Linked DNA regions of Homo sapiens. The protein of the gene in region 1 purifies or fractionates together with the protein of each later gene. This does not show direct contact. Each region holds a gene or a part of one and is shown in the gene's direction. Other genes may lie near its edges.

What was found. Proteins that work in one complex are often made in the same cells at the same time.
Region 2: the proteins of RHOD (region 1) and TRMT61B purify together in Homo sapiens (affinity purification with mass spectrometry; 4 studies listed by BioGRID and IntAct, with this or other methods). This does not show direct contact.
Region 3: the proteins of RHOD (region 1) and C1orf198 purify together in Homo sapiens (affinity purification with mass spectrometry; 4 studies listed by BioGRID and IntAct, with this or other methods). This does not show direct contact.

What each region holds. Positions count from the first base shown.
Region 1 is NC_000011.10:67,052,162-67,059,863, forward strand, and holds the start of RHOD (rho-related GTP-binding protein RhoD), read left to right. Parts: upstream 1-4,685; 5' UTR 4,686-4,741; coding exon 4,742-4,873; intron 4,874-7,702. UniProt on the Homo sapiens protein: Involved in endosome dynamics. May coordinate membrane transport with the function of the cytoskeleton. Involved in the internalization and trafficking of activated tyrosine kinase receptors such as PDGFRB.
Region 2 is NC_000002.12:28,860,298-28,867,322, reverse strand, and holds part of TRMT61B (tRNA (adenine(58)-N(1))-methyltransferase, mitochondrial precursor), read left to right. Parts: intron 1-2,203; coding exon 2,204-2,306; intron 2,307-6,014; coding exon 6,015-6,205; intron 6,206-7,025.
Region 3 is NC_000001.11:230,851,510-230,858,534, reverse strand, and holds part of C1orf198 (uncharacterized protein C1orf198), read left to right. Parts: intron 1-2,527; exon of another isoform or gene 2,528-2,657; intron 2,658-2,816; coding exon 2,817-2,867; intron 2,868-7,025.

The sequences.
Region 1 (7,702 bases):
AAGGTGTCACAGTGTCTGGGGAGACACAGCTGGGCTGAGGCTTGAGAGGCCAGGTGGGGTTGGGCTGTGGAGGCTGTGTGTCCAAGCTCAGGGAGAAGCTCCTTATCCTGCTGGCAGTGGGGAGCCATGGTGGGGTCTTGAGCAGGAGCAGGTCCAAGGGAGGGAGGGGTCACTCTAAGCAGCTTTGGAGGTGACACAGAGGGACATCAGTGAATGTTACCCTCGCCAGTGAGTGGCAGGAGGGGCAGGCAGGAGGCCTCTGAGCTGCCTTTAGGTTTGGGTTCATTCAGCAGGACTCAAACTGAGGTGCCATCCTGGAGAGAAGCTGGGACAACCCAGGCTCTGAGAAGCTGTCTTGCCTCCTTCTTCTCTCTTGTAATCTTCCCAACCTATTTCCCTCCTTTCTCAGGCCACCCCACATCCAGGGTCCCATCCCTCCCCACCCCTTCATCTCCCCTCCTCCAGCCCTGGGCCCAAGGACACACCTCCAGGGTCCCAGGCCCCCTCTGTCTGGGAGCCCCACCGAAGAGGACAGGTGTGGAGGTCTCTGACCTGCCCAGCAGCATTGCCTGGGCTAGGCCTGCATGTGGGAGAAGCAGAGCAAGCCACTGCATCACGGTCGGCAGCAGCTCTAAGCTCCAAACTTCCCTTCCTCTCTTCTATCTGTCTGTGCCTGCAGACCCCCAAAAGGGACAAATCAAAAGGCTTAATAAGCACCAGGATGGGGCCACCAGACCTCCTCTCTCTCCACCCCTCCCACCCTATTATCAGCCCTTCCGTCCCAACCTGAAAGATCAATAATGGTTTGGCAGGGAGAGGAGGCCAGGGCAGGAGGGCACGTCCCCGTGGCCTGGGGCTCCAGTTAGATGGCAGCCAGGCTGGAGCTGTCTGGGCAGGCTAGACAAAAAGAAACTTGGGAGCAGAGGCCCTCTGGTTTCCACCTGGCGTAAAGCTGAGTCTGCTGCTCACTTGCTGTGTAAGTTCCTTCCCTTCTCAGGCCTCAGTTTCCCCATCTGAAGAATGGGGGTGTTGGATAAGATGGCCTCTAAAGAGCCCTGTACCTCTGACTTTTGGACATTCTGTGTGTATGGACTCCGGAGCCCAAGGGCCTGGGTCCAAATCCCAGCTTCTCTGCTTACTAGCTGCGGGACCTTGGGCAAATTATCCAACCTCTTTGGGCCTCAGTTTCCTCACTTGTCAAAGGAGGATAAGAATTGAACATACTTCATAGGATGGCATGAAATGACATGTGCCAAGTGTCCGGCACAGGTAGGTGCTCAGTAAATGCGAGGTCAAGGCTTTGGGTGGAGGAGTTCAGGCTGAGGGCAAAGGCTCTTAGGATCCAGTATTTCAGATGAATGTGGGCCAGGGACGGGCGCGGTGGTTCACGCCTATAATCCCAGCACTATGGGAGGCCGAGGCGGGTGGATCACCTGAGGTCAGGAGCTTGAGACTAGCCTGGCCAACATGGTGAAACCCCGTCTCCACTAAAAATACAAAAATTAGCTGGGCGTGGTGGCAGGTGCCTCTAATCCCAGCTACTCAGGAGGCTAAGACAGGAGAATCGCCTGAACCCGGAAGGCGGAGGTTGCAGTGAGCCGAGATCACATCACTGCACTCCATCCTGGGCAAGACTCCCCATGGAAAAAAAAAAAAAAAGAGCAGAGGACAGGGGATGCACGCGGAACCAAGAGCTTCGGGAGCTACACACCAGGGCCCGTGCACCCTGCCAAGCCACTCCAAGGGGAAAGACTGTATCTCTCCCCTTCATTCAGCCATCCACAAACACCCCACACCCCCAAGCCAGGAACCCCAAGCAGGGAGGCAGCCCCAGGTGATGACTGTGCAGGGAGCTGAGCGACCACATGAGGGCAGTGGAGACTCGATCAGGACCGCATAGGATTTGGCCTTAGGATGGGGGTGGGATGTGAGAAAATGGGGAGAGGGGTGAGGCCAGGGGGCCTTGGAGTAGGCGGAGGCTGGAGAGTGGTTGCCTGTCCACAGACTCCCCATTCATGTCACATGTGGTATTCGTCATCCATGCAAGTATTTGTTCCTTTATTCATTTCTTCAGTTTGTTTATTCTTCTAAGCCAGCCCCTCTGCCGTCCATCCTTCCGTCTTTCCTTCCTCTCTTTCTCACTCTGTTTTTTTCTTTCTTGTCCCTTTGGTTTGTCTGGCCAGGAGATCAACTGGGCATACCGTCCTGAGCCACAGCTGGGTGCCAGCCTGAGAGAGGCACTCCTCTAGGGGATACGGTGAGCCTTGGCCCCTGCCCTTGAAGGGTTCAGGGCAGTAGGCCACGGTGCTGGGCTCCCCACAGATCTGGGCCTGGGGTTGGTGGGGCCTCGAGGGGCCTAAGTCTCCCACAGGCTGCAAGTCCTGAGAAGCCTCAGTAAACACTAAAACAGTAAACAGTACCCTGGCCAGGCAGACTGTGTGACCTGGGCCACCACTCTAAAAATAAATTCCAGGAAAACAGTATGGTCCCAGGTCCAGCAATGTCTGAGATTCAGGGACATTCCCTGCCAACCAGAGCCGATTTCTGTGGCCTGGTGACTAAGCTCCCTCTCGCAGGAGCGTAAGCATGGTGGGGGAGCGGAGGCTGGGGCTTGACGTCAGGAGATTGAATCCTTGCTGTGTCCTGCTGGTCTAAGACACCCCTCTGCCTCTCTCTGAGGCTCAGTTCCCAAATCTGTAAAATGGGAGGAAGCAGGTCATCTGCTTGGTCTACCTCGTGGTCTGAGAGCTAAATGAAATTGCAATTGTGCAGATGAGGCGTGATGGAGGGAGACCACCTGGCTTTGGGGTCACGCCTGGATCCAAATTCTAGTTCAGCCTCTTACTAGCTGTGGATGTTAGTCAACAACTTAGCCTCTCTGGGCCTCAGGCTCCTCATCTGTGAAATGGAGCTAAGAGTCCCTACCTCCTAGGGAACAGTGCCTACACGTGGCTTGCAATCCACTAATGGGTGTTGTTATTATTAGGAAATGTTCAGTGAAACTGTATAGCATGACAAACATCAAGTGTGTCATTACAGAGATTATCCCTATAGCAACCAAGGCCAAACGCCTCTGCCTGACTCTCAGCTCCCTCCACCCCCAGTCTGGCCCCACCTGCCTTCCAGCCTTGCCACCCAAGGCCTGACGACAGCAGCAGTTGGGAGGAAGATGCTGACAGCTGATCCGAGGGGGTGGGGCCCCTCTCACCACTCCTTGGGGCGGGGAGCCCTGCTCTGGAGCTACCTGCCCAGCCCAGTGTCAAGTCACTGCCGAGCCCTGTGGCAGTTTCGGGGAGGAAGGGGCACCTGGAAAGGCAGAGCTGTGCTGGGGAGGATCCTTCCCTCCAAGTGGGGCTCCATCCAGCCTGCAGACCACAGCCCGGAGCGGGAGCCGGGCAGAGGAGTCAAGGAGCTGGGCTCTGCCTCTCCACCTAGTGACTCCTGCCCTGGCTGCCTCTTTAGACCACAGTGAGTTTAAAGGAGGTTGAAGGTGCTTTTTCACCTGCCTGACTTGGAACTCCATGAGGGGGGATGTCATGACCAGCATAAATTAGGGGGAACCTAATGACGTCTGCCCCTTGTTCTTTTAAGCTTCAATAGAAACACTCAGTCCAAGATCTGGGAAGACCCTTGTGCCCATTTTTAAAAGATTTCAACTCTGGCCATTAGGAGAAGTGGAGAGATCAGGTGACAATGAGTTCCCAGTTCAATGCTGGATTTACTGCTGGCATCCAACGTGCTCCACTGAGCAAGCACCAGCTCCTCATGCTGCACCACTGTGCAAGCGAGCCTCACCCTCTGCGGGGGCGGGGTGGGGGGGCAGCATTCCGCTCCGGCCTCCGCAGCTTCGCACGTGCCGCTGTCTCCGGTGGAACACCTTTTCCCTCCCCCATCTGACTGTGTTTCACTTTTTCCTCAAGACTCTGAAAGGTTTCCTGACTCCCTCAACGTGGGCGAGGAGCTCTTTTCCCCTACTCCCGTCCCGCTGCCTGTCCCTACTCCCGTTGTAGTTCTGATCACACTGATGTCCTGCGTGTCTACCATTCTAAGCCGTGGGCTTCTCAAGGCAGGGCCTGGATTTTGTCTTAAACAGTTCAGGGTCCCCGGGCCCTTGGGCACCAGGGGGACATCTCATGGTGCAATAATAAGAAACACTCACACTTTACAGAGGGAAGGTTCTATCGCTTTCCCTAGATCGTGGCCAGCCACGGTGTCAGGTGGCTGCCCACCTGCAGCAGAGCTTCCTGGTGCTGCGGGAGGGGGCAGGCCAGGCCTGGTGGGGCCAGTGAAGGGGGTCATCCCCTTCCCACCTGGCATGAAACGCCTGTGTTGTGCTGCGTCCTGAGACCCCTGGGGAAATGCACCATTCATTCATTCATTCATTCATTCACTAAAGGTCACTGGCTCCTGCCTGGGATCTGGGACCCAGCCCCTGAGCACACCCCCGCCCCCACTGTCATGGTCCCGCTGTTTGTCTTCTCCCTTCCGACCTCCCGTGGCCCCAGCGCGGCCAGCTCACAGTAGGTGCTCGGGCAGCGTTTCTTCAGGGACCTAGACGGCCTGGAGAGGAAGGGCCCCAGCCCAGCCGCCCGGGCCTCTCACCTGGCTCTCGGGGCGCCCGGCTCGCACTTCCTCCCGCCGCCCCGCCCCTTCCACATTCCTGCCCCGCCGGGCCTGCCCCGCGCAGTCTGGGTCTCTGCGCCGCAGCCGCCCGCCCGCCCGCTCAGCGCCCGGCCCCGGGATGACGGCGGCCCAGGCCGCGGGTGAGGAGGCGCCACCAGGCGTGCGGTCCGTCAAGGTGGTCCTGGTGGGCGACGGCGGCTGCGGGAAGACGTCGCTGCTGATGGTCTTCGCCGATGGGGCCTTCCCCGAGGTGAGTGCCCCGCGCCTCCGCCTCGCCCGGTTCCGCTCGCGCGCCCGGGTGTACAGGTCCGTGCCGGAGCGGCCCAGGCTGTGCGCCTAACCCGGCCTCCGAGGGGTGTCCCAGCGGGGCCTGGGGTCCAGGGCAGAGTTCTTCCGCCCCAGCCATTGGGAATGAAGGCCTCAGTGATGTTATCTGTAAAGCCGGAGGAATGGCATCCACCGGGGAGAGGTGTCACAAGGACTGAGTGAGGCGACCTGGGTGCACACAAGATCCTAAGACAGCACTTGGCCACACAATTCCGCTGAGGGCCTGAGAGCTTGGAAGCCAGACTGCCGAGGTTCAAATTATGGCTTTGCCTCTTATAGCTGTGTGCCCTTGGGTAAGTCCCCTAACCCTGCTGTGCCTGTGTCCCTCACTACATCACAGGTGAGTGACAGTGCCCACCACACAGGGTCACTGTGACAGAGAGTTAATAGACCTCAAGCACTCAGCCCCGGCCTGTGCACAGGAAGGACTCACGGAGAGTTGGCACATGTCGCTCCTGGGAAACATTGTCTCCCTTCCAGCTCTTGCCGCTGGAAAGCACATGCCATGGGCTCTGCCTTGGAGGGTGGGAGCACGCCAGCTGTAGCCTCAGCTGCTGGGCCCGCGTCTCTGCTCTCCTCTGAGCCCCGTGCCCTTTTGTAACCTGCTTAGCTTCTCTGAGCCTCAGTTTCCTCACAACAACCCCATGGGGTAGAGGGACTGTAGGGCAGTGGTGAAGTGGAGCCCAGGGGAGGCTGACAGGCAGCTCCCGTGCGGTAGCTGGCATGTCCTTGGCGCTGTAGGCATGCCCACCGTTAATCCTTCCTGACATGCTCACTGACTGCCCAGGCAGACTCCACGGGCACCAGGCGGCCCCTGCTCTGCCGCCTCTCAGCCCTGTTGTCCTGGGAGTCCATGGAGTTGCTTCCAGCATCTCTTCTTTTTTTTTATTTTTATTTTTTTTGAGAAGAGTCTCACTCTGTCACCCAGGCTGGAGTGATATTGGCACAATCTCAGCTCACTGCAACCTCCGCCTCCTGGGTTCAAGCGATTCTCTTGCCTCAGCCTCCTAAGTAGCTGGGATTACAGGCGCCCACCACCACGCCTAGCTAATTTTTAAAATTATTTTATTTTATTTTATTTTTGAGACGGAGTCTCGCTCTGTCGCCAGGTTAGAGTGCAGTGGCACAATCTCGGCTCACTGTAACCTCTGCCTCCCAGGTTCAAGCGATTCTCCCGCCTCAGCCTCCCGAGTAGCTGGGACTACAGGCGCGTGCCACCGTGCCCAGCTAATTTTTGTATATTTTTAGTAGAGACAGGGTTTCGCCATGTTGGCCAGAATGGTCTCGATCATTTGACCTGGTGATCCGCCCACCTTGGCCTCCCAAAATGCTGGGATTACAGGTGTGAGCCACCACACCCAGCCAATTTTTTTATTTTTAGTAGAGATGGAGTTTTGCCATGTTGGTCAGGCTGGTCTCGAACTCCTGGCCTCAAGCGATCTGCCCGCCTCGGCCTCCCAAAGTGCTAGGATTACTGGCCTGAGCCACCGCAACTGGCATTCTTCCTCCTTTTCTTCCCAGCATCCTCTAAGCCCCTGGGGTTGTATAGGTGCTGGAGCATCTGAGCACAAGCAGGACGGTCGGGCCTACCCCAGTTCTTATCACACTGTAGTTCTTATCAGGATGATATCTGTCTGCCTGTCTCCCACCCTTGGCCCATGTGCTTTCTGCTGCAGTGGCATTGAGCCACTTTTGTTTAGTAGCTTGCGGAGCTGGTGTCACCTCCTTTGACCAGTCATACATTTTTTTAAGTTGGGGGAAACATGTTTCTGGGCCCCTAGATGCTGCCCATGGGAACCCAACAATGAGGGCACCCGGGGAAGAGCACCACACAGGGACAGGTGGCCCAGGCCCAGGGGAAGGCACCTGATGGGCGGGGGCTGGAGGGCTGATGCCTCACCACCAGCTCTGAGATGTCCTTGATGGTGAGACCATCCCAACTTCAGAGGAGTTATGACGTGGAAATGGGCCTCTTCCAGTTGATAAGATGTGAATGCTTTGAGGGACATGCTGGGGCTGGCCAGAAATGGGGGGAGGGCATGCTTATCACCAGGAAAATGGGCTGGATTTGTCCAGGCTCCTCCCGTCTGGGGGCTCTGAGTTCCCTGGAGCAGGAGAGTCCTCTTCATTTAAAGAACCCACAATGGGCCGGGCGTAATGGCCCACACCTGTAATCCCAGCTCTCTGGGAGGCCAAGGTGGGTGGATCACCTGAGGTCAGGAATTCAAGACCAGCCTGGCCAACATGGTGAAACCCCATGTCTACCGAAAATACAAAAAAAATTACCCGGGCATAGTGGCAGGCGCCTGTAATCCCAGCTACTCGGGAAGCTGAGGCAGGAGAATCGCTTGAACTCAGGAGGTGGAGGTTGCAGTGAACCGAGATCGCGCCATTGCACTCCAGCTCGGGGACAACAGAGCGAGACTCCGTCTCAAAATATATATAAATATATATATATATATGTAATTAAATAAATTAATTAAAAGAACCCACAACGTGTAAGAGTTGGAAAGGCTTCATTTTGCAGATGGGAAAACTGAGTCCAGAACCCAGAGGCTTACCTGGGGGCACATGGCCCGGCAGTGGCAGCACTGATCTAGAGCCCAGGTCTTCCCCCTCCCGACCAGGGCCTTCTCCACAGCCCCCAGTGCTCTGCCTGCTGGACCCAGCCTCCTCCTGCCCCTGTCCCTAGCACCAGACTCTTCCTCTAGGCAGCCCTCGAAGCCCAAGGGGCCAGCAGCCAGGAGGCTGG
Region 2 (7,025 bases), on another chromosome or scaffold:
AGAAGTTTGAGACCAGCCGGGGCAACATAGGGAGACCTTGTCTCTACAAAAAATAAAAAATTAGCCAGGTATGCTGGCACACACTTGTGGTCCCAGCTACGCAGGAGGCTGAGATGGGAGGATTGTTTGAGCCCAGGAGTTTGAGGCTGCAGCGAGCCATGATCTTGCCACTGCACTCCAGCCTGGGCAACAGTGTAAGATCCTATCTCAAAAAAAAAGTGAGGGGGCAGGTGCCGTCACTCACACCTGTAATCTCAGTGCTTTGTGAGGCCAAGGCAGGAGGATTGCTGGAGGCTAGGAGTTCAAGACTAACCTGGCCAACATAGCAGGACCCCATCTTTATAAAAAATAAAAAAAAAATTAGTTGGGCATGGTGGTACATGCCTGTGGTCCCAGCTACTTTGGAGGCTGAGGTAGGAGGATTGCTTGAGCCCAGAAGTTCGAGGCTGCCGTGAGCTACTATTGCACTACTACACTCCAGTCTGAGTGACAGAGACCCTGTCACCAAGAAAATTTGTTTACTAAATTTAAAAAAACAGTTTTTATTAATATCATCCGTAATATTTGTGTTAACAAAAACAATTCCAATTATATGTTTGGCAAGTGGGTCCTCCAATCTAGTAATAGCATAGTCTCTTTTTTTTCTTATATAGCAGGGCTCCCCTACCCCCAGGCTGAGGACTGGTACCAGTGTGTGGCCTGTAACAGGGAACCGGGCCACACAGCAGGTTAGCGGTGGGTAGTGAGCATTACTGCCTGAGCTCCATCTCTTGTCAGATCAGCCATGGCATTAGATTCTCATAGGAGTGCAAACTCTTGTGAACTGTGCATGCACCAGATCTAGGTTGCATGCTCCTTATAAGAAACTAACTAATGCCTGATGATCTGAGGTGGAACAATTTCATCCCAAAACCATCCCCCTCTCCCCAGTCTGTGGAAAAACTGTCTTCCACGAAACGGGTCCCTAGTGCCCAAAAGGTTGGGGACCGCTGTTATATAGTATCTTAATTCTAAATTAGAAGTTCATCATTTGGCCAGGCACGTTGGCTCACACCTGTAATCCCAGCACTTTAGGAGGCCGAGGCGGGCAGATCACCTGAAATCAGGAGTTTGAGACCAGCCTGGCCAACATGGTGAAACCCCATCTCTACTAAAAATACAAAAAATTAGCTGGGTGTGGTGGTGGGTGCCTGTAATCCCAGCTACTTGGGAGGCTGAAGCAGGAGAATCGCTTGAACCCAGGAGGCGGAGCTTGCAGTGAGCCAAGATTGTACCACTGCACTCCAGCCTGGGTGACAGAGCGAGACTCTGTCCCCCCAAAAATAAGAAGTTCATCATTTTGAGCTGGGCACACTGGCTCACACCTGTAATCCCAGCACTGTGGGAGGCTGAGGCGAGCGGATCACCTGAGGTCAGGAGTTCAAGACCAGCCTGGCCAACGTGGTGAAACCCCATCTCCACTAAAAATACAAAAATTAGCCGGGCATGGTGGCAGGCACCTGTAATCCCAGCTATTCGGGAGGCTGAGGCAGGAGAATCGCTTGAACCCGGGAGGCGGAGGTTGCAGTGAGCCAAGATCGTGCCATCACACTCCAGCCTGGGGGACAAGAGTGAGACTTCGTCTCCCAAAAAAAAAAAAAAAAAAAAAAAGGAAATTCATCATTTTATGCAGAGATTATATAGTAAATTCCTAACTGGTCTTCCTGCCTCTTGATTTTTCTCCAGTAGATCCTGTATTCTTCTGCCAGATTAATCCTCATAAAATGCCATTTATATCACCTCAGTGACACACCCTAGTTGCTTATCAGGCTGAGTTCTAATGCCTCATACTGGCATTTAATTCTCTGCCTATCTCTCCTGAGATAACAAACTGGATTTATTCTACCTCTGCTTTGTTTAAAGCTGTTTTTACCTTGTGATTGTTCCCATAAATTGTCTACTCTTTGTCTTTAAACTAGGCCATCCTGCTACTCTATGAACTTATTGTCTGTAATTTTGGTATTATTCTGAAGTGTTGCCTTATTTGTTAATTGATTCTTGGATCTCTTTTATTTCATCAAGTGAAATATAAACTGAAGGCAGGTCCAGAGTCTGATTCGTTTTTTCACTCCCTTCTTCTGCACACCCAACAATGTAAGATAAGACTAGGTGCTTAGTACATATTTATTGGTCGCTGAGTCACCCATACTGTTTTCAATCATAGGATATTAATATGATTCTCTCAATGATGGATATCAACCCAGGTGATACTGTTTTGGAAGCTGGCTCAGGCTCTGGTGGAATGAGCTTATTTTTATCCAAAGCAGGTAAGAGATTGGACTGAGCTGGATCTCAGTAACAAAGAAAACATTCAATTTGTTCATAATAACAGAAAGGTATAAAGATATTTGGGAAAATACCTAACATTGAGGTAGCATTCTCCTAGAATCTGAAAGTAAGCAACTATTTTTCTTTCCATTCTGTACATTTATTCCAGTCAGTCTCTTTCTAATCCTCCCTCAATTTTCTTTGCTTTGTTTTACTTTCTCCATGCTCTCTAATGCTGCTTCTTTTTTCTTAAGTATACTTTTTATTGGAATATAATATGGCTACAGAAAAGTGTGCAGATCATAAGTGTATATCTCAATGAATCTTTGTATAGTGACCACTCATGTACTTATTACCGAGATCAAGGTAGGGAGTGTCCCTGCCCCACAGATGCCTCCTCATGTCCCCTCCCAGTCCTTATCATCACCAAAGGAAACCACTATTGTGACTTTTATCATCACTGATTAGTTTTGCCTCCTTCGAACTTATATAAAATGGAATCATACAGTATGTGCTCCTTTGTATCTGGCTACTCTCATTCATTATTATGTTTGTGAGATTCACTCATTGCATGCAGCAGTAGTTCTTTCATTTTAGTTGCTGTATAATACTCTCTATTTAAATCACAATTTACCTATTTTACTGTTGATAGACATTTGAGTTGGATATTACAAATAGTGCTGCTTGGAACCTCCTTGTGTACTTGTCATGTTATTGTTGAATACTAGTGCCAGGTGAATACTTAGCCTGAGGGAATATGGAAGGACGTTGTCAGCTGTTGGGGGGAGAGTTATATATCGTTAGGGCCAAAGAATTATAGTAGGTGTTCATAAAGAAATTAATCATAGTACAGAGCTATTAAGTAAAAAGCTAGATCATGAAGAATTATCTTTTTTTTTTCCAGAAAGTCTCTAAAAATTGTCAGTTGGTAAAAGTACTGCTTGAAGGTGGGTGTCTGATCAAAAATCAAGAGGTGTATATTAAACATATATATTTTTTCATGTTCCTACCACTTAATTTCTAGTTACTTTTATGCTAGTTGATTAGTACCTCTTTGCCTACCTAATTTCTCTGAGTGTCAGGGTTGCTTTGGGTGGTCTGTCTGTGCAGTGTTCTCTTCCCTACATAATACTAGACTGCTGAATAGTCACAGTACTTTCTTTGAGTAGATTTTATAAAGATTACAGATAGAAATATGCTGAAATTAAACTCACACCTTTTGTTCTTTGACCTAATGTCTTCACATATGAATATTATCTAGATTATACTAAGCCGGTAAATTCATTCTGGGCTCCTCAATCAATCTTTTGTTTGACTTTTCTGTACATAGTTAAAGGCAGTCATTTTCTCATCATCTATGACAAATTCCTAACTGCACGGTTTCATTTGACAAAGTGGATTTATAAAAATTGGTGAGAACAGATAAGTGCCTATATTTCTAAAATATATAGTATCAGAAGAGTGTCATGGCTTGAATAATCCTAAACTATAAATGTGCAAGAACTTATTGCTATTTACCTATGTGATGGATATTTTTCTCCATATTTTCTTTTCCAGTTGTTTATGTTACTTTTTTTTTTTTTTTGAGGCGGGTTCTCACTCTGTTCCCCAGTTTGGAATGCAGTGGTATGATCGTGGCTCACTACAGCCTTGACCCTCGGAACTCAAGTGATCCTGTCGTCCCAGCCTCCCAAGTAGGTGGGACAATAGGCACATACCACCAAAGCTGGCTAATTTTTAAAGTTTTTGTAGAGACTGGGTCTCACTGTTGCCCAGGCTGGTCTTGAACTCCTGGCCTCAAGCAATCTTGCCTAAGCCTCCCAAAGTGCTGGGATTACAGGCATGGGGCACCACGCCCAGCTTATGTTACTATTAAAATTAATTTTTATCTCCTGAGAACCTGATAACTTGCAGTTGGAGTTACATTTCAAAAGATACCTTGGAATTTAAACTTCATTAGTAAACTGTAAACTGATTGATCTGGGATAATCTCCAAATGGTATCAAATCACTTCAGATAGAGGTGGGTGGAAAGTTAATTGCCTTAAGTTAAAATGTAGTACTCCTCTCTGGAATTGCAGTATTACTGTGCTAATTAGTTTAAAAGTTCTTCACATACACACACACACACACACACACACACACACACACAAATACAAATACCTTTAATTTTTTTTTTTTATTTTTTGGTAGAGACAGGGTTTCACCATGTTGGCCAGGCTGGTCTCGAACTCCTGACCTCAAGTGATCTGCCTGCCTTGCCCTCCCAAAGTGCTGGGATTACTGTGGCGAGCCACTGTATCCGGCCACAAATACCTTTTAAATATATGAAAGACTCAACCTCATCCATAATAAAAGAAATGCAAGTTAAAATTACATTAAAAGGCTGAGCATGGTGGCTCACGTCTGTAATCCCAGCACTTTGGGAGGCCGAGGCAGGCAGATTGCTTGAGCTCACGAGTTTGAGACCAGTCTGGCAACATGGCGAAACCCTGTCTCTACCAAAAATACAAAAAGTTAGCTGGGTGTGGTGGCACACACCTGTCGTCCCAGCTGTTCAGGAGGCTGAGGTGGGAAGATCGCTTGAGCCTGGGAGGTGGGGGTTGCCGTGAGCTGTGATTGCACCACCGCACTCCAACCTGCGTGACAGAGTGAGATCTTGTCTCAAAAAAAAAAAAAAAAACCAAACTCAAAAATCTACATTAAAAATGATAAACTTTATTCACTTTTTAGATTGATACAGATAAAAAGTTCAATAACTTAGGGAGAGTATGGAGATACAGGTATTCTTTTTTTTTTTTTTTTTTTTTTTGAGACGGAGTCTTGCACTGTCACCCAGGCTGGAGTGCAGTGGCGCATCTTGGCTCACTGCAATCTCTGCCTCCCAGGTTCACGCCTTTCTCCTGCCTCAGTCTCCCGAGTAGCTGGGACTACAGGCATGTGCCACAACACCTGGCTAATTTTTTGTATTTTTTTTAGTAGAGACAGGGTTTCACCGTGTTAGCCAGGATGGTCTCAATCACCTGACCTCATGATCTGCCCGCCTCGGCCTCCCAAAGTGCTGGGATTACAGGCGGGAGCCACTGCGACCGGCCTGAGATACAGGTATTCTAATACATTGCTGGTTGGCATATAAGTTGACACCACTTACGTGGAGGACAATGTAATATTATGTGAATAAATTCACATACCCCTTGAGCCAGCAATTCCATTTTTAGGACTTTATCCTGTAGAGATATACTGGCTTGATACAAAGACTTAGGTATAAGAATTTTCATTGCAGTATTGTTTATATTAGCATATGACTAGAAACAAGCTAAATGTTCATCGTAGCCATACAGTGAATATAATGCCTGTTAAAAAAGAATGCAGTACATCTAGAAGCACTGAAATGACATTGGTAAGTAAGAAGGAAGGTACAGGACAGTGTGTATAATACACCACAGTGTGTATTAAAAACACAGAGAGATACTTGGCATGCTTGTATAGGCAGTGACTATCATGGGAAAGGTAAATAGCTGGTAATGTGGTTGCCTCTGAAGAGGGAGGGAGATTAATTGGAGATCAGGGATAGGAGATCAGACTTGTAACATTGAACTATTTGAATTATTTTTTTCACATACATGTAGTACCTTTGCAAAATACATTTTTGACACTTTTTAATAAACTGATTAATATTATGAAATATCAAATTATTTTTTACTTAAGTTGGATCACAAGGACGAGTCATAAGTTTTGAGGTACGAAAAGACCACCATGATCTGGCTAAGAAGAATTACAAACACTGGCGTGATTCATGGAAATTAAGTCATGTAGAAGAGTGGCCAGACAATGTGGATTTTATTCATAAGGACATTTCAGGAGCAACCGAAGACATAAAATCTTTAACATTTGACGCAGTAAGTTTTCTAACGTGGGTCCTGTGTTATTACTTTGACTATAAAGAAGATAGGGGTCAGGCTTCTTTTGTATGGGCAAAGGTCTTCCTTCGTTTGCTTCATGTCTATCTCTAGGGATTGAAAGAATATTTTCGTTTCATGCCTTTTAATCTCATGGTGGGATTTGGGACAGAGAGACATACTGAGTTACCGAGTTGGGTGCTGAAGTTGTCATTGAATGTGGGGTAATGACTGAAAGCTAGGACCAAAGACTAGTTGAGCATCATGAACCTCAGCATTTCTAGGATGAATCATACTTTGGAAGCAGCATTGGAAGCATATTGAACCCGGCACCTAACCTGAACTGTGAGATTTGGGGGAATAAGTAGCTTCCATTTGACAGGGAATAGGCAGAAGGCATCTTTAGTTAGTTGAAGTCAGGATATCAAGGGGAGTGTGTTCATTGAAGATGTCGAGGACAGAGGTGTTTATCATGAACAAAGCTCCAGAAAGTGGAGCAGAGACATTGTGAGGAAGAGAAACACTGGGAAGTTGACTTAGGGAAAAGAAGCAGAGAAGATGAAAGTAAAAAGATAGATGACAAGAGAGGATACATTAAGCTGCGATCAAACATGGTGGAGATCTGGGACATGGAAGTATTTGCTGGCTGAAGAGTTTCAGAATTCCTTGGTGATGCCACTTCACAGTTCATAGCTTCACACTATGGACTGAGGCCTTGGTTAGGAGTCTTTCTTCCTTTCCTTAATTGGCTGCTGGAAGGATGGACTGTTTTGGTGAGAAATGAAGCAAAGTTCAAAGAGGAGAGAAAATCTTTTTTTTT
Region 3 (7,025 bases), on another chromosome or scaffold:
TACCCTGTGGATGGCCGGTTCTTCCTCCTGGAACTAAGAGCTGTGAAGAGCCGGTGAAGTCTTAGGGGGTGTGTGAGTGTGGGGTGTGGAGGCTGGGGAGGAAAATCAACCTGTGAAAATATCCAGGCTTGTGCAGAGATCATTTATTCACGAAGAGTTAATGAATGATTAACTAGAATAAATGATACTTACATTCCATCAGCCTCTTTTATTTTTCCCATGTGAAAACAAAGCCCTTCTTGGTTTGATTGCTTCTAAACGGAACTCAGAGGGTTCTGAGGATTTTAGGGACTTTGGTTATTTAGCTCAACTGTACCCCTAGCATGCACACAGAGACGTGGACAAGGAGCCCCCTAGAGCTGAAGGCTGGCCCTCTGCCTCTGCTAGGAGACATCTAATCACAAAGCCTTGGTAACTCACATTCCTCCAGGCATCCATTTCCATTTTTGGAGGAATGAAGTTTGTGCATTGGGAAGTGACTTGAGTTTAACTGAAATTCCAAACAAAAAGGCAGTGGTTCCTCTCATTTTTAAAGGTTTTGCTTGACAGCCATGAGGCACTGCATACCAATCAGTTCAGAAGTCAGGATCATAAGCAAATACCATTACAGGACAGTGACTGTAACACTCTGAGGATGGGGGTCATCTTACTGTGCACATGGTCATTAGTTGCACACACTATGTGGTTCTCAGAACTGACTGTTTGATACACTTTAATGCAGCTTAACCCAGTTTGTAGGGCTTTTCCCTCACTTTTGTAATTCTTAATATTTATACCTAGTATCTTTGTTAGTGGTGTTTTTTTTCCTGATATAAATATATTTAGTCCTTTTATATGCTGTCCTGGGAAAATAAAGACCTGGATTCTGGCCTTTTGACAGTCTCCTCTCTGGGTTTTCCTTGCTCTTTATCCCCAGCATATGTGAAGTATTTGTGCCACAAATGTACCAGCCTCTACTGCACAGAGCCAAGGCACACAGCACAGCCATCAGGACACAGAACCAGATCTCTACCCTGTTGATGGCTGGCTCTTCCTCCTGGGGCCAAGAGCTGTGAAGAGCCTGTGCCCCCACATTGGGAAGTCTTGGGGGAGTGTGAGTGTTGGGAGCGGGTGATTGTGGGGGAAAATCAACCTGTGAAAGGATCCGGGCTTGTGCAGAGTTTGTTTATTCACATATTCTCAAAGAGTGAGTAAGCGTCCGCTACGGGCAGTCGCTGAGTCTTCCGGGCACTTGGGATAGAGAAGCGGACAAAGGCCCTGCTGTGTTGCCCCTGTCATCTAGGGTTGGCCGTGCTTGGGCTGTGCTGGGGAGTCATCACACACTTCCTTCCCTGTCCCCGCTTCTTGGGAATAGGCCTTCAGCTGCCCAGACCCTGGCATGCCTTCGTTATTTGAGTTCAAAGACTGACCTCCCACTGGCTGTTCATGTTAGGAGGCGTCTGCACAGAGAACGCACACTCGGGGTCTGGAAGGCTGAATGTGTACACTTATGTGTTGGTGAGGCACTCCCCCTGCGTGGGCCCTGGCATTTGCCCCCAGTGTCTGAGGCTAAGCTAGGGTGGCGGAGGCTCTGTCAAAAGCTGAAAGAAGAGGGTCTGTGGGCAGAACTGGTTTGCCCTGTAGAGGAGAGGGAAGCCAGACCCTTGACTTAGGGGCGCAGAGTCGGTGTACCTATGGGTGGGAAGAAGACAGTTATCCAGGGATACTTACGGAAGGACATAAATCACCTGGAGTTTTGGGGAGATATGGATATGATCTCCGTTTAAAATATTTTATCCCATTTTAGCCTGTATCACCCAATGTGTCCTGATTTTTTGTTCTGAAAATATGCTCCCAGTAGAAGCAGTCAGACATGGTGCACACCTGTAGTCCCAGCTGCTCTGGACACCCAAGGCAGGAGCATCCCTTGAGCCCAGGAGTTTGCGTCCAGCCTGGCCAACATACTGGGACCCCATCTCTTAAAACAAACCAACAAACAAACAAAAGTTACCCAATCGAAGCTGGACACAGATGAGACATTTGCTAGCACAGGAATAACTGCGGGTAGAGGGTGGGATATAAGGAAAGGTGGCTTCCCCAAGTCATTTGTGCAGGCCAGTGAACAAAACATACTGGATCCAAGGTCAAATTCGTAGTGATTGTTCTATAGGGCTCTTTCTGTCCTGTTCTGTTTGGTGGGGGTGGGGAGTGATTTCAGAGTTCTTGTTATAATTAGTCACATGGATTACATTGGCGTTTTTCTTCATTGATTCTGCTGATCCATGCCCTCGAGCTCTCTGGTAGGCCTGTTGGGGAGGAGGGGAGCTCCTGTATTGGCATTGACTGGCAGATTATGGCTTGGCGTTCTTTTCCCAGATTACCTCATTTAATCCTTACAACAGCCCTGCAAGGGAAGTATCATTTTGCTTTTACAAATGAGAAAACTGAGGCTCAAAAAGGCTGAGTCATCTTCCCATGGCCACACAGCTAATCATTGTTCAGGGCTGAGTCTGTGCCTGATTCTGCTGAGACCATCAAGCCCTCATCCACTCCTACTCATCTCATCTGTCTGAGTCCATTGGGGGGCCTCACCGGCATTCCCTGTTGTCTGTTTGGCTGGGGAGGGGAGTGTCTGGCAGCCTCAGCGGGAAAGATGAGGGAGCAATCTGATCAAGACGGTCAGCGCATTATATTGAGAGTGTCAAAGCATCAGGCTTGTTTAGAGCCAGGAGTTGGGATTATTCCTAAGTTTTGGTTCCCCCACGGTCCTGGGTGGATATTTGCATGGGGTATGTCTGGGTTTGAATTTCAGACTTATTCTCGATTTTTTATTTCAGGATCTAACTTGGCAAGATGAGCACTCTGCCCCTTTCTCCTGGGAAACAAAGGTAAGTTGGATTAAATTTAGATCTATTTGTTCTTTTAAAAAGAACTGAGTAGTTGTATATTTTTCTTTCAGCATTTGATGGACTCAGAAGACAGCCCCCTGACTGCCAGGCTGCAGGGGATGTGTCCATTGTTGGTAGAAAAGGAGGGGATGGGAGGAGCATGGTGAGGAATTAGGAAACTATTGTGTGTGGTTTGGTGATAGTGAGTTCAAAGTAGTAGTGCTTTCTGCCAGGGTCCAATGACGCCCCATGATGCCCATTGTCTAGGACTCCCGGCCAGCTTGGTTAAGGGGGCCAGCCCTCTTGGGGGCCCTGTCTCTGCTCATACCTCTGGTTCCCAGCACTTAGCACCTTGATGGGAGATGCCCCATAAGACAAAGCTTTGAGCAAATGGGAGGTGACGAGCTGATTGATAGACATAGACATCCATTTAGCTAATTCATCCCAACGTGGATCACTAATTCTGTCTCCCAGTCATTCTTCTTCTCATCATTATCATCATCATCACCAGAGTTGCTTAAGAGCATCAAGCTTCACTGATTTTAATTCATTTTCCCCATCTCCTAAGTTGCCCCAGTAGAAGTACATTCATAAGCAAAATGACTAAAAGACAGGTGTCTTTAACCCAAGGGACAGAAATAAAAGACCAAGATTTTCTGAATTCTGGAACATTTGGTGATGTGTGTTGGAGGGTTCTTTACGTCATGAGAGTGTGTTACAGACAGAGACGGTGGTGAGCCTGGAATAGGGCTCGGACTGCTGGGCAGATCAGGGTTTTTAAATACTGATACCTCAAGGCACTTGTTTTTTGGTTTTTCACTTGTCCACATCATTGCTGATCAGAGCCCTCATCCCAGCAGGAGACCTATGAGGAGGGTGGGCCAGAGTGGTTCATGAAGGACCCTGAGAGGCCCTCATGTTGGCGACTGTGTCTTAAAATGAAATATTGCCCAAGGGTTCAGATGGACACAAGGACAGCTGACACTGTTCTTGGCACACAGACAGTATTTAGTAAGCTATTGCCGATTGCCCTGGGTGAAGTGAGCTGGCCTCAGGGCGTGGGAGCGTGGGACAATTGAGATGAGTGTTAGAGTTAAGAGGTGGTTTTGGGGAAGGCATGGCATTAATGTAGTCTCCCTAGGGATCGGGTACGGGTTGCAGGGGTGACCAGCACTGTCTTGGGAGAGAGCACAAGATGTTAAGGAGCCGCCTGCAATTGGAATAGCTTCTAAATCCAACACTGGATCCTGTGTCTACTGACATTGCAAAGGAAGTCATAAGTGGGTAAAAAGTGCATCATTACATTGATTCTTAGCCAGGGCCCTCAATATTCCTCTTCTATGGGCTCCCAAAATGGGTAATTGTGAGAAGTACTAATCCTATAGATGATATCTAGTGGTAATAGCCAGATAGATTCTCTGTGTGTTGGAAATGAGCAGCCTTGGGTATGGTGACCCAGAAAGCAGTGCAGATTTTCCTGGACTGGGTCTATATTTGAAGATATCATAGTGATAAAGGCAAAGGAAAGTAAAAAATAGTTAAAGTGTCCTAAGACCTAAGCTCATCATGTTCCCCACGAGAACATCTGTTCTCTTAAGAATTTAGCTTGTTAAATGTTCCTGAATCAGCTATTTGTGGGACAGGACATTTCATCTTTTATTAACTTGGCATAAATGACATTCTGGGACAAGGTGGTGCAGCTCCTGGAGTGGCCACTGATACAAGCACAGCTGCTGGGGCCAGAGTGGGAAACAGGTGCCTGGCGAAGATCTCGAGAAAAAAGAGAGCAAGTACAGTCCACTTGAATCACACTTGTGCTGAGAGGCTCATTGTCCACAGATGCCAGCATATCTGGTCCCTTAGGAACCAGTGTAAGTTGAGGAAGCTTGCTAAAATCTGGTTAATATGTGTCACCCATCAGAAATTGCATCCTTTTAGTAAAGTGTAGTCTTCATAGCTCAGAGTTGGCAGTTTCATTTCATACTCCTGTTAGATTAGAGTTCCAGTTTGTTTCACAAACTGTTGGGCTCACTCTGTGTCCTCACCTTCCTGTTTGATCTCTCGAGGTCAGACTTACTATAGTTTACTATTAGAAACGTCTAGGGGCAAAATAGAGCGTATCTCAGAGAGCAAGGGAGCTGTCCCTTCCTCCTTCTTCACTAGGCAGTGCCGAGTTTTAAAAAGCCCATCACTCATTCCTCCTTTGTCTTAACCCTGGAGTGCCCTGCCATCCTGCTTGAAGAGATTTGCCAAACTCTTCTTAGGACTTAAAGGCTTATAAGATCTTCATTGGAGAGCCACAAACAGGAGGTGGCTTTAGTGAAGGTAGGACCCCCTAATCTCCAATTGCAGGACTGGAGGGAGACTTGGACCCCATTTCTTGTTACCTCTCAACTGATGCCTTCCTCACTCTATCAGTTCTCTATAGATGCATAACAAACTTAATGGCTTGAAGCAGCATTTTATGTGCTCATGATTGTGTGGGTCAATGATCGGAGCAGGGCTCAGCTGGACTGTTCTTCCGTTGGCCTTGCCTGGGATCACTTATGTGTCATCTGATCGCCTGATGGGAGCTGGGTGCTCTGAGAACCTTGCTCACGTGTCTGGTTGGTGCTGGCTGTTAGCTGGGCCACATGTCTCCAGCAAGCCAGCCTGGACTTCTTCACACAGAGGTGGAGAGATCCGTGTGCGGGAACGGAAGCCTACGAGGACTCTTTTGAAGCTTAGGCTGGGCAATTGCATAGTATCACTTCTGCTCTGTTCTGCTGGTCAAATCAAGGCACAAGCTGGGCCAGATTCAATGTTTGAGGAAAGAGATTGCACCTCTTGATAGAAGAGCTGCAGAGAGTTTGCACCCATTTTAAATCTAAGATTGTATGATGTCATTCATTCCTTGGTTAACCTTGGCCATTTCTTTCCATTTTTAATTAATCACTCATTGATTTTTTTAAGTTTTATTTTTAATTGTGGCAAAATACACACAACATAAAATTTTCCATCTTAATCATGTTTATGTGTATAGTCTGGTGGCATTCAGTACATTCACATTTTTGTGTAAACATCACCATCATCCATCTCGAGAACTCTTTTTAAAAATTATTACTTTTTAATTGACAAATGAAAAATTGTGTATATTTATGATGTACAACAAGATGTTTTGATACGTGTGTACATTGTGGAATGATTAAGTCAAGCTAATCCACACCTCCAGAACTCATCTTGCAAGACTGAAACTCTGTTCCCATTAAAGAATGACTGCCCCCCACTCTCACTAGCCCATGGCAGCCACCATCTATTTTCTGTCTCTGAAATCATTCATTGATTTTTTTTTTCCAGTAGATATTTATTGTATACCCCGTTTATGTCAGACATTATGCTGCAGGCCCAGAGTTGAGCATATGCCACTTCTGTGCTCGAACAACAGCTCAGTGAGTGGACAGCTGTGTTTGGTGGCAAATCTCACTCAGCACAAAAGCTATAGCCACCGAGTCACTCCAGTCATTTTCTCCATACGTTTAACCCAAATTTGTACACATGTTGGGTAGATGTAACCTCATGCCCTTCTTCAGCTATTCAGTTCAACAGACATTTAGTGGATGCCAGCAGAGTGCCCAGCTCTGACTTCTCCATCCCCTGACGAATCTACCTACACAAGGGTAAGCCTGACCCAAGGTCATGGCCATGGGCAGAGTTAAGAATCGCAGGGATTTTTGGTTTCTCACCCAACTGCTGCACCTCTGTATGGGTTCCTTTCTCTTGGCCAGCCCATGACCATTCCACCTCCACAGAATGAGCTGCGGTTGTGCTTGGGACCTGTGGTCGCTGCCCCCATGCAACGCAGCTTTGATCAGGAGAGCTCGCTGCAGCCTCACAGTAGCAGCTGTGCACCCACCTGGTTTTCCAGCCTGTCCACCCTGCCTCGGTTGCCTCCTCTGAGGCTGATCGTGGCTGTGGTGCCTCTGTTACCCAGACTTCTTCCATCACAGAAGGGAGGCCTGCCTGTCCCAGAAGGGTGGGGGTGGTCGTGATTGTCATCTTTTCCACTCATCTATCAGCTTGGCAGGCGTGCCAGGGGAGAGGGGGCCAGTGGGGACCTAATGTTGCATTCCTGTCTCATGCTACTGCTGTTTCGAGAGGAAAAAACTCAGCACTTAGAAG